2 separate regions of the Homo sapiens genome follow, and region 1 is linked to region 2. Evidence: fine-mapped expression QTL. Tissue or cell type: blood mononuclear cells. Region 2 holds a variant in brackets; the other region holds the start of a gene. Each region is shown on its reference strand, or each on the opposite one. Region 1 holds the start of POP1 (POP1 ribonuclease P/MRP subunit). Region 2 overlaps TTC5 (tetratricopeptide repeat domain 5).

What was found. PIP is the estimated chance that this variant, and not a neighbour inherited with it, causes the effect. A credible set is the group of variants that fine-mapping cannot tell apart.
Region 1: it holds the start of POP1, and the variant in region 2 is the best candidate, but not a certain one, in a credible set for the expression of POP1 in blood mononuclear cells (TOPMed, PIP 0.58).

Annotation. Positions count from the first base shown.
Region 1 is chr8:98,115,023-98,119,416 of GRCh38, forward strand. It overlaps POP1 (POP1 ribonuclease P/MRP subunit), which reads left to right and starts at 2,271. Exons shown (of 16, transcript NM_001145860.2): 1 at 2,271-2,368. It overlaps RIDA (reactive intermediate imine deaminase A), which reads right to left and starts at 2,149. Exons shown (of 6, transcript NM_005836.3): 1 at 2,010-2,149. The coding sequence starts at 2,074. RefSeq lists enhancers at 2,254-2,303, 2,374-2,543.
Region 2 is chr14:20,288,197-20,292,590 of GRCh38, forward strand. It overlaps TTC5 (tetratricopeptide repeat domain 5), which reads right to left. Exons shown (of 10, transcript NM_138376.3): 9 at 3,787-3,931; 10 at 1-1,550. The coding sequence ends at 1,431. Among named protein-coding and RNA genes, the nearest start is that of TTC5, 16 kb to the right of the region's middle. The variant T/A (reference allele first, on the strand shown) is at 2,099.

The sequences.
Region 1 (4,394 bases), not on the chromosome of region 2:
TGCACACATCAGTTTCTTCATCTGAAAAATAGGGACTATAATATAACCATGCACATAAATAACTTAGAACAGTGCCTGGTGCTGGCCAGGCATGGTGGCTGACACCTGTAATCCGAGTACTTTGGGAAGCCGAGGTAGGTGGATCGCTTTAGGTCAGGAGTTCAATACCAGCCTGACCAACACAGTGAAACCCTGTCTCTACTAAAAATACAAAAATTAGCCGGGTGTGGTGGCACCTGCCTGTAATCCCAGCTACTTGGGAGGCTGAGACATGAGAATCACTTGAATCTGTGGGGTGGAGGTTGCAGTGAGCTGAGATTGCACCACTGCACTCTAGCCTGGGCAACAGAGTGAGACTCTGCCTCCAAAAAAAAAAAAAAAAAAAAAAAAAAAGGGATAGTGCCCAATGCTGCTGAGTAAGCATCAGTAAATGTTAGCAATGATGACTCTACCCCGTTTGATTACATTAAGGAGAAAAAAAATCATCTTTAGAAAACAAATTAAAACATCACTTGAAAGTTTTTAATTAAACTTTTTTTTTTTTTTAAATAGAGATGGGGGTCTCACTATGTTGCCCAGGCTGGTCTTGAACTCCTGACCTCAAGCAATCCTCTTACCTCGGCCTCCCACAGTGCTGGGATTACAGGCGTGAACCACAGTACCCGGCTAAAGAAACATCACTCTTAACAAAGAGAGAGCAGGCCTCAGGTTTTGAGCCAACTGCAATATCTAGCTAAAATTTAATAATACCTTTTTTTAATTGAGTTTATTTTTTACTATTACTTTCTATTGAATTGTTTTCTATTTAGTGTACTGTTGTAAAGTTTCCTTTTTCAATTAACTTGTTAAATAAAATGAAGTGAGCCATCTCAAAGAAATAGGTTAAGTAAATTATAAGTGATATACAGATTTGGCAAACAAACAAACAAAAAAGACAGAAGTAGCACTTGAATTATGAAAACTTTCTCCCCAAAATCTTTATACCATGCATTCTTCTACCTCCATGCCCTCACTCAAGCCATTCCCTCTACCTGACTTCTACCTCCATGCCCTTCACTCAATGACTTCCTGTTGAAATCCTTAATAAATTAATTTAAAAATCAAACTTTACAACACTACTATAAATGACAAAACCAACCTTCAAAACCAAAGGACTACCTCTCACAAGGAACCTTCCTAAATCTTCTTTTTCCTCTTCCACCCCAAGTTAAAATCAATTTGTCTTTTTTCTCCTTTACTCCCTACCCCACTTGCCCTCTCACTTCTACTGCATTTTATTTATTTCCAAGTTTTCTATAATAATTCCTGTTCTGCCACATCTCAGTGCCTTTTCTCACAGCAGTAGGTTTAAAGGAGGGAGCTGTTGATGGGGCTCTTTTCAGTTGGGAGAGAGGCAGACCAAGTATGAAGCTAATGAAAGAAGTTGGTCATAAAGGACTGCATGTTTTATGATTCAATTTATAGGAAATGTCCACAACAAGCAAATCCATGAAGATGCAAGTAGATTGTCAGGGGCCGGGGGAGAGGAGAATGGGGAGTGAATGCTAATGGGGATGGGATTTATTTTTGGGGTGATGAAAATGTTCTGAAGAAAGTGGTGATGGCTGCACAACTCTGTGAGTATGGTCAAAACCACTGAATTGTACATGTTAAAGGGGGTGAATCTTACGGTACGTGAATTATATCTCAATAAAGCTGTTACCAAGAAAACAAAAACGACCCCCTCCCCCAAAACAAAACACAGGGTCTGAAGGCTTCTAACTGGGGAGAGCTTTCTGGCAGGCTGTGCTCCGCAGCGAGGCAGCCCCAGAACGAGCAAAGTCCCATGGAGTGCAGGTTCCTGGTCCCATCGTGGCTCCCAACTCTCTGTGGGTCTTCGGGCGCGTTGCTTACTTTCCAGGCTCAATTTCCTTGCGTGTTAGCTGGGGCTCCGGCCCGGAGTGGCCCCAACCCCGAATCCCCGAACCCGCACGCCCTGGGTCCGACACAGCTTCCACCAGCCACGTTACCTGTAGGGTCCAATGGCCCCTGGGGCTTTCGCGGTGCTGATCACCCTTCTGATCAAGGACGACATGGCTAAGCCTTCCCTCTTGCAGCCCCTTCAGGAGAAGAAGCCCCAGCACCAGCCCTGCTGGCTTCTTACTGGACTGACCAACCACAGCAGCGCCTCTGCCCCACAGCTCCCGCTGGGGGCGGGCTCGTGCGGCATTCTGGGAACTGTAGTTTCGGCGACGCTCCAGGCCACGTGGAGGAAGCGCCCGGTCTGGCGCATGCGCTCTCCAGCGCGCTCTCCAGGAGCTTTGGCTCGGTGGGTACTGTCGCGGAGGCTTGTCATTCTGACCCGGGGATTCCTCACAGCGTCTGGCAGGTTGGTCGTGAGGGGCTGGTGCCTTCCAGGATGCGAGTGTCGGGGGAACTGTATGCGGCGGCCCCCCTCCCGGCGCCCGTCTCCCCTCTTCATCGTTTCTCTCTCAGACTCCGCTGACCTCTTTCCTTGCTGCCTGTGCCCGGGGCCCCTCTCCCTGGTGTCGCATCTCCTTCGGCCCCTGCGCTGGAGCCCCCTACGTCAGTCATTTCCCTTCATTGCCCCGCCGGGTGGAGGCCGTCCTGGGAATGGGCTTGCATCCCCTCTTCTGCAACCCCAAATGACTAATATGGGTCATTCTGGCGACCACGCTGAGATCTGGGCGTTGGTCCTCCCGTGTTCCCTTTCCTGCTCCTCCTGTGTTCCCTTCTCTAGGGTGCTCCTCGGGCTTTACAAGGTCACTGTCTGAACAGAGCCCTAGTGATTGGGATATCATTTCAGAAAGAAAGATGGTGATCTGGAATGGCCCAGATCCCTTGTAAGTATTCTGCTGTGTCAGAAGGGGTGGTACTTGGCTAAATATTTCTTATCCTGTTAATATTTGCATTGTAAGTACGCTTCGTTTCTTCATTTATGCGGGCACTCATAGATATATGAGTCCCTACTTTGTGTAAGGCACTCTGCTAGATGCTAGGAGGAATGCAACAGTTAAAAAAAATAATAATAAAATCTCTGCCTTCCCTGCTTCCTAAAGATAATACAAGAAAATCTGCTTTATTCCCTCTCATTTTGTCCTACATACTGCTAAGGTTTTGGCCTTCCTACTTCCGGCTCAGGAACCTTCTGATCTTTTTCATTGGTTTGGGGCCTGGAATAAAAGACCTTTCAGTCTGGCCTCCCCTTGCCTATTCAAGTTTCATTGTCATCTACTCCCTTTTCCCACTAGAGTCCTCCTGTATTCACACTGTGGATTCCTGAATACTCTTTCTTCCTTATCTGTGCAAATTCCAGCTAACTGAAATTCTATTTTCTCTTTGACTTTTCCTACCAATTCACATTTTTTTCTTTTTCTTCTTTCCTTCCTTTCCTTTTCTTTTTCTTTGTTTTCTTTCTTTCAAGACAGGATCTCACTCTGTCACCCTGGCTGGAGTACAGTGGCATGATCTTGGCTCACTGAAACCTTGACCTCCTGGGCTGAAGCAATCCTCCAGCCTGAGCATCTCAAGTAGTTGGGATTACAAGTGCACACCAGCACGCCCGGCTAATTTTTGTATTTTCTGTGGAGACGGGGCTTCTTCATATTGGCCAGGCTGGTCTCCAACTCTTGGGCTCAAGCAATTCTCCCACCTCAGCCTCCCAAAGTGCAGGGATTACAGGTGTAACCATTATGCCCGGCCTCATTTTTTTTCTTTCCCTTGTCCTGTTTCCTATTGTGCTGTACCGCATAATTTAGTATTTTATTATATGAGATCCTATTTTCTAATTGTTATGTGTTTCAAGAATAGTGGATTGGAGAGGGAAGGGGTGGAAAAAAAAAAAAGAATAGTGGATAGAGTCAGACTGCCTGGTTTGAATCTCAGCACAATCACAAGCTTAGTAGCCTTGGACTGGTATATAAAATCTCTGTGCTTCGATTTCTTCATTTATAAGATGAGAATAATACTAGTGACCACAGAGTTGTGAGAATTAAATGAATAAGTCATGTAGAATAGTGCCTGCCACATCAAGTTCTCAATGCTGCCTAAGATGACAAAATTCTTATTCTACTTTGGAATTATACACAGCCTGAAACTATTGGGCACATAGTAGGTGCCCAAAAGTTTATTAAATCTGATTAAACTAGATAATTAAGACATATTTTTATTTACAAAATAATTCACCATTTAAGTTTTTAAATAAGAAGCTATTTTGGAGCATTACAAATGATTCAACTTGTGTAAAATATTTCTTGTGAAACAAGGTACCTTTATTCTTAAGACAGATTTTATATCAAGTCTGAATCACCAACTTTTTAGATCTGGAAGAAAATAGACATCATCTAGTTAGTTCCCAGGTTCTCAAACTGGGAACTAACTAACACCAAAGGTTG
Region 2 (4,394 bases):
ATAGATAGACAGATAGATAGATAAAACTTCTCTCATCAATGCATTTCTACCATCCATTCTCTGAGGAGGCCTCTGCACTCTTTATAAATTTAATGAGTCATCAATGATATTCAAGGCACTGATCAAAAACTGAACAGGACTGGACCAAGAACAAAGATCTGAGCCATTTCACTAGAAGACTTCTCAATTCATCTGTATACATTAATGTATTACAGCCATTCAGTTGTTGTTGCTGTTTGAGACGGAGTCTCGCTCTGTCGCCCATGCTGGAGTGCAGTGGCATGATATCGGCTCACTGCAACCTCCACTTCCCAGGTTCAAGCAATTCTCTGCCTCAGCCTCCCCAGTAGCTGTGATTACAGGTGCCTGCCACCACGCCCAGCTAATTTTTGTATTTTTAGTAGAGACGGAGTTTCACCATCTTGGCCAGGCTGATCTTGAACTCCTGACCTCGTGATCCACCCGCCTTGGACTCCCAAAGTGGTGGGATTACAGGCTGAGCCACCGTGCCAGGCCAATTCAATTGGTTATTAATCCTCACTCACATTTCTCCATTTTACCACAAGGATATTAAGATAAACTGTTATAAAACATGTCACTAGACTCTAAAGAAACTGAGGATTTATCTAACTCTCTCTGGTCCTTCAGCCTAGTAACACTATTAGAACAGTATTGCTCTGTCATCTTGGACCATAGTGAAGACCACCCCTAGGGAATGACAGAATGGGAAAATGGAAGAAAGCTGGTCTCTAGCAACTTTGTGGAGTTGCCATTCCTGCCTGGGGCTGTCTATTGTCGGAATTCTTTTAACTGGGAGAGAAATAAACTGCTTTGTATAAAGAAAAAAATGGGGGTATTACTCCAATAAATTGAAGTGATCCTAAAACAAAGAATACAGGCCTAGGGAGAATAAAGCAGGCCAAACTACGTGGTGTTTTTTTTTTTTTCCAAACAAATTTAATTCTGTTCCAGCCCCAAAGAAGAGGAAGGACCTAAAGTTCAAAAATAAAAATAAAAATTGCTAAAAATAAAAGCCATTACAAAATTAAGCCCCCTCCTTTAGCAATAAATACTGAACTGATATATACATATGAGGCTTAGGAAGGAGGCAACAACAGGAACCTTGGGGACTCTGTCCCATGGCAAGATCCCAAGACTTCTACCAATTCCATGCTCTTTGCTTAAAACATAGAGAGCAGTGGAAGAGACAGGAGAGATATGCCAGAAGAGTATGTGGCCCTGTAGAGAGCTGGAACATGATGAGGACAGAGGAGAGAGAAGAGATACGAAGTGTAATACAGGCAGGGAAAGAGAAAGTCTTCATTTAAAACATTCCTCCCATCCCTGCTGAATCACTGGATGTGGCTGGACCGGCTGTCCAGAGCCTTGTCTCCTCTCCTCCACTCCCTGTTGAGCATGCAAGTCAAAGGTCATTCACACTGTGGTCGCGATGCCACTGTGGCAACAGCCTGGCTGCTGGATCCCTGAGGCTTCCCATTCACCACTAGCAGGAGGGGCGTCTCCACTCGAACACTGGAAAAGGAATAGTCCTAGAAAAGACAGACAGACAAAGGTTCACTACAGATTCCAAGATGGAAAAAGCTCCAGCATGGGGATACACCACTTGCAACTTTCTGCACCACCTCCCCTGTTGTATACCCCCTCTACTTCCATCTCACATCAGACAAAACTGAGCTAACACAGGGGACGAAAATTTCCCAAAGTTTTCAATCTTCAGAAGGAAAACATGGAGCATGTAAGGTCATGTAGTGCCACTACAAGAATGAGACAGCTCTTTGATCCAAAAAAGGCAGGTTCCTGGCATTGCCTAACAAAAGAATGCAACCAACTCTCATAGAATCTGCCTTTTCCCACGGTGTTTCCTGATAATTAACTAGATACACATAGCAGCCGGCCAGAGCCAGTGGGAATCCTGAGAAAATCTCAGTCCAAATGTTTATAAGGTCCTAATTTAATCCACCAAATACAAATTAAAGTTACTTCTCTTTTATATCAAGAGGAGGAAATAGAACATGAAACAGAATGTAGCCGTTTTCCTAATAACAAAAAAGGTATCAGCTCACTGTATCAGTTTAAG[T/A]GTATTTTAAGTTGTAAAACATATTAAATAGTCTTCATCCAAAAAATATGGCAATGAGAGGCAGGCTCTTTTAAGTCCAAGTAAAGTAAATTTAAAAGTTCTCATAAACCAATTTTTTTTAAGTCTTCACAGAAATATCAACAAGTGACACAAAAAATGGCAATTTATACAAGAAATATAAATTAATATTCATGCTATATTTTCCATGTAAAATTAGAAAATAACTTTTCAAAGGTTTCCAACCAGAGTTGAGAAAAAAACTACAGAGAAACACTTATTTACATCCACTGTTGGTAGTGACAACTAACTAGTACAATTTTCCAAAGAATTATTTGGCAATATGTATCAAAAGCCTCAGAATTCTGCATACCCTTTGGACCCAGGAGTCTACATTAGAAATTCATTTAAGGAACTAATCATAGATACAAGCAAAGATACAAAAATCCTCACTGTGTTTCTAATTTTTTTTCTATTATAAAAGTACTAATTTAGATCGGAGGTCATCAAAGTATTTCTGCAAAGGGACAGATAGTAAATATTTTAGGCTTTGTAGGTCATATGGTCTCTGTTACAGAACAAGTCACCTCTGACACTATAGTGCAAAAACAGCCACAGACAATAGTAAGCAAATGAGTGTGGCTGTGTTCCAATAAAGCTTTATTTGTGGACACTGAAATCTGAATTTCCTGTAATTTTCACATATCACAAAATATTACGCTTCTGTCCATTTTTTTCACTTAACAACACAGAAACCACACTCTTGTTTTTCTTTTTTTTTTGAGGCAGACTTTCTCTATCACCCGGGCTGGCGTGCAATGGGACAATAATGGCTTACTGCAGCCTCAAACTCCTGAGATAAAGTGGTTCTCTCACTTCAGCCTCCTTAGTAGCTGGGACTACAGGCATGTGCTACCATACCTGGCTAAGTTTTTTAACATTTTTTTGTAGAGACGGGGTCTCACTATATAGCCCAGGCTGGTCTTAAACTCCTGGGCTCAAGTGATCCTCCCACCTTGGCCTTCCAAAGTGCTGGGATTTTACGCATGAGCCACCATGCCCAGCCTAGAAACCATTATTAATAAACACAAGCAGTGAGCCAGATTTGGTCAATGGGCTTTGCCAACCTCTGATCTAAATGGTTAAACAGTAGTTAAATATCTACATTCATAAGGTTTTTTTAAGAATTGAATGGGGCAAGGCAGGTAATAAAAACTCTTAGCACAGTGTCTAGCACTCAATTAAGTGTTAAATAAATGTTAACTATCATTACCATCTTCATCACCCCGTGTCTACTCAATGTGGTGAAATATGTAAAAACATAGGAAACATTCACAAACATTTGCATATAATATCCCACTCATGATTTAAAATATAGATATATGTGTATATATTTGTGAAAAGAAAAGACTTCAGGTATATACACCAAACTGTTAACAGTAACAGTTAAAAGGCAGTAATACCTGAGTGATAATATTTCACTGCATTTTTTTATTTTTCTGCTTACCAGTTTACCTTTTTAGTAAAAAAATACATATATATATATAAATAAAACATATACACACAAATATATATACACATAGCCTACACACATACTTACATATAATTATTTCTATATCTTTTATAAAAAGATAAGCTTGGTTCTACTTTTAGAGCCTACGAGTTGTAAGAGAATCCTAGCCATTGCTCACCTTTCCTTTGTGCTGAATTCGGTGAAGCCGCAGGTTGGGCTCAGGAATGGCTACAGAGTCTCCAATGAGCACTCCCCAGCTCTGCACTATATTGTACACCATCACTGCATAGCAAGGTCCATCTGAATCTACCAGGCCAAATGTACTACCAAGTAAAGACAGATTAGGAGAGAGGAAAACAAAAAGGTATGTGGGTAGGAAAGAAGAGCAGAAACAGTGGTTTAAAAATACTAGCAAAATACTGGACTTAAAGTCAGTGACAGGTAATTAAAATAAAATATAAAATTTAACTTAATTAAACTTTAAAAATAAAATACTAACAAAATAAACAAATGCTTTTTCTCAGTTACTCAGAAAACCTATGAGAGGTACCATCTTCCACTTTATATATCTGAGTCTTCATTTTTCTGAAACTCATCAGTCACTTTGCTAAGAACTTAGGACAAAGCACACTGAAGCCATTCAACAAATATTAATGATGAACTAGACCAACATGTTACAGTTGTAACATTATTCCTGGTCTATCAATTTAACTATCATACTCTTAACCAAAGCCTCTAACCATCACTGTCTGTGTAGTTTAACTCCACAAACTTTCACTGAATATT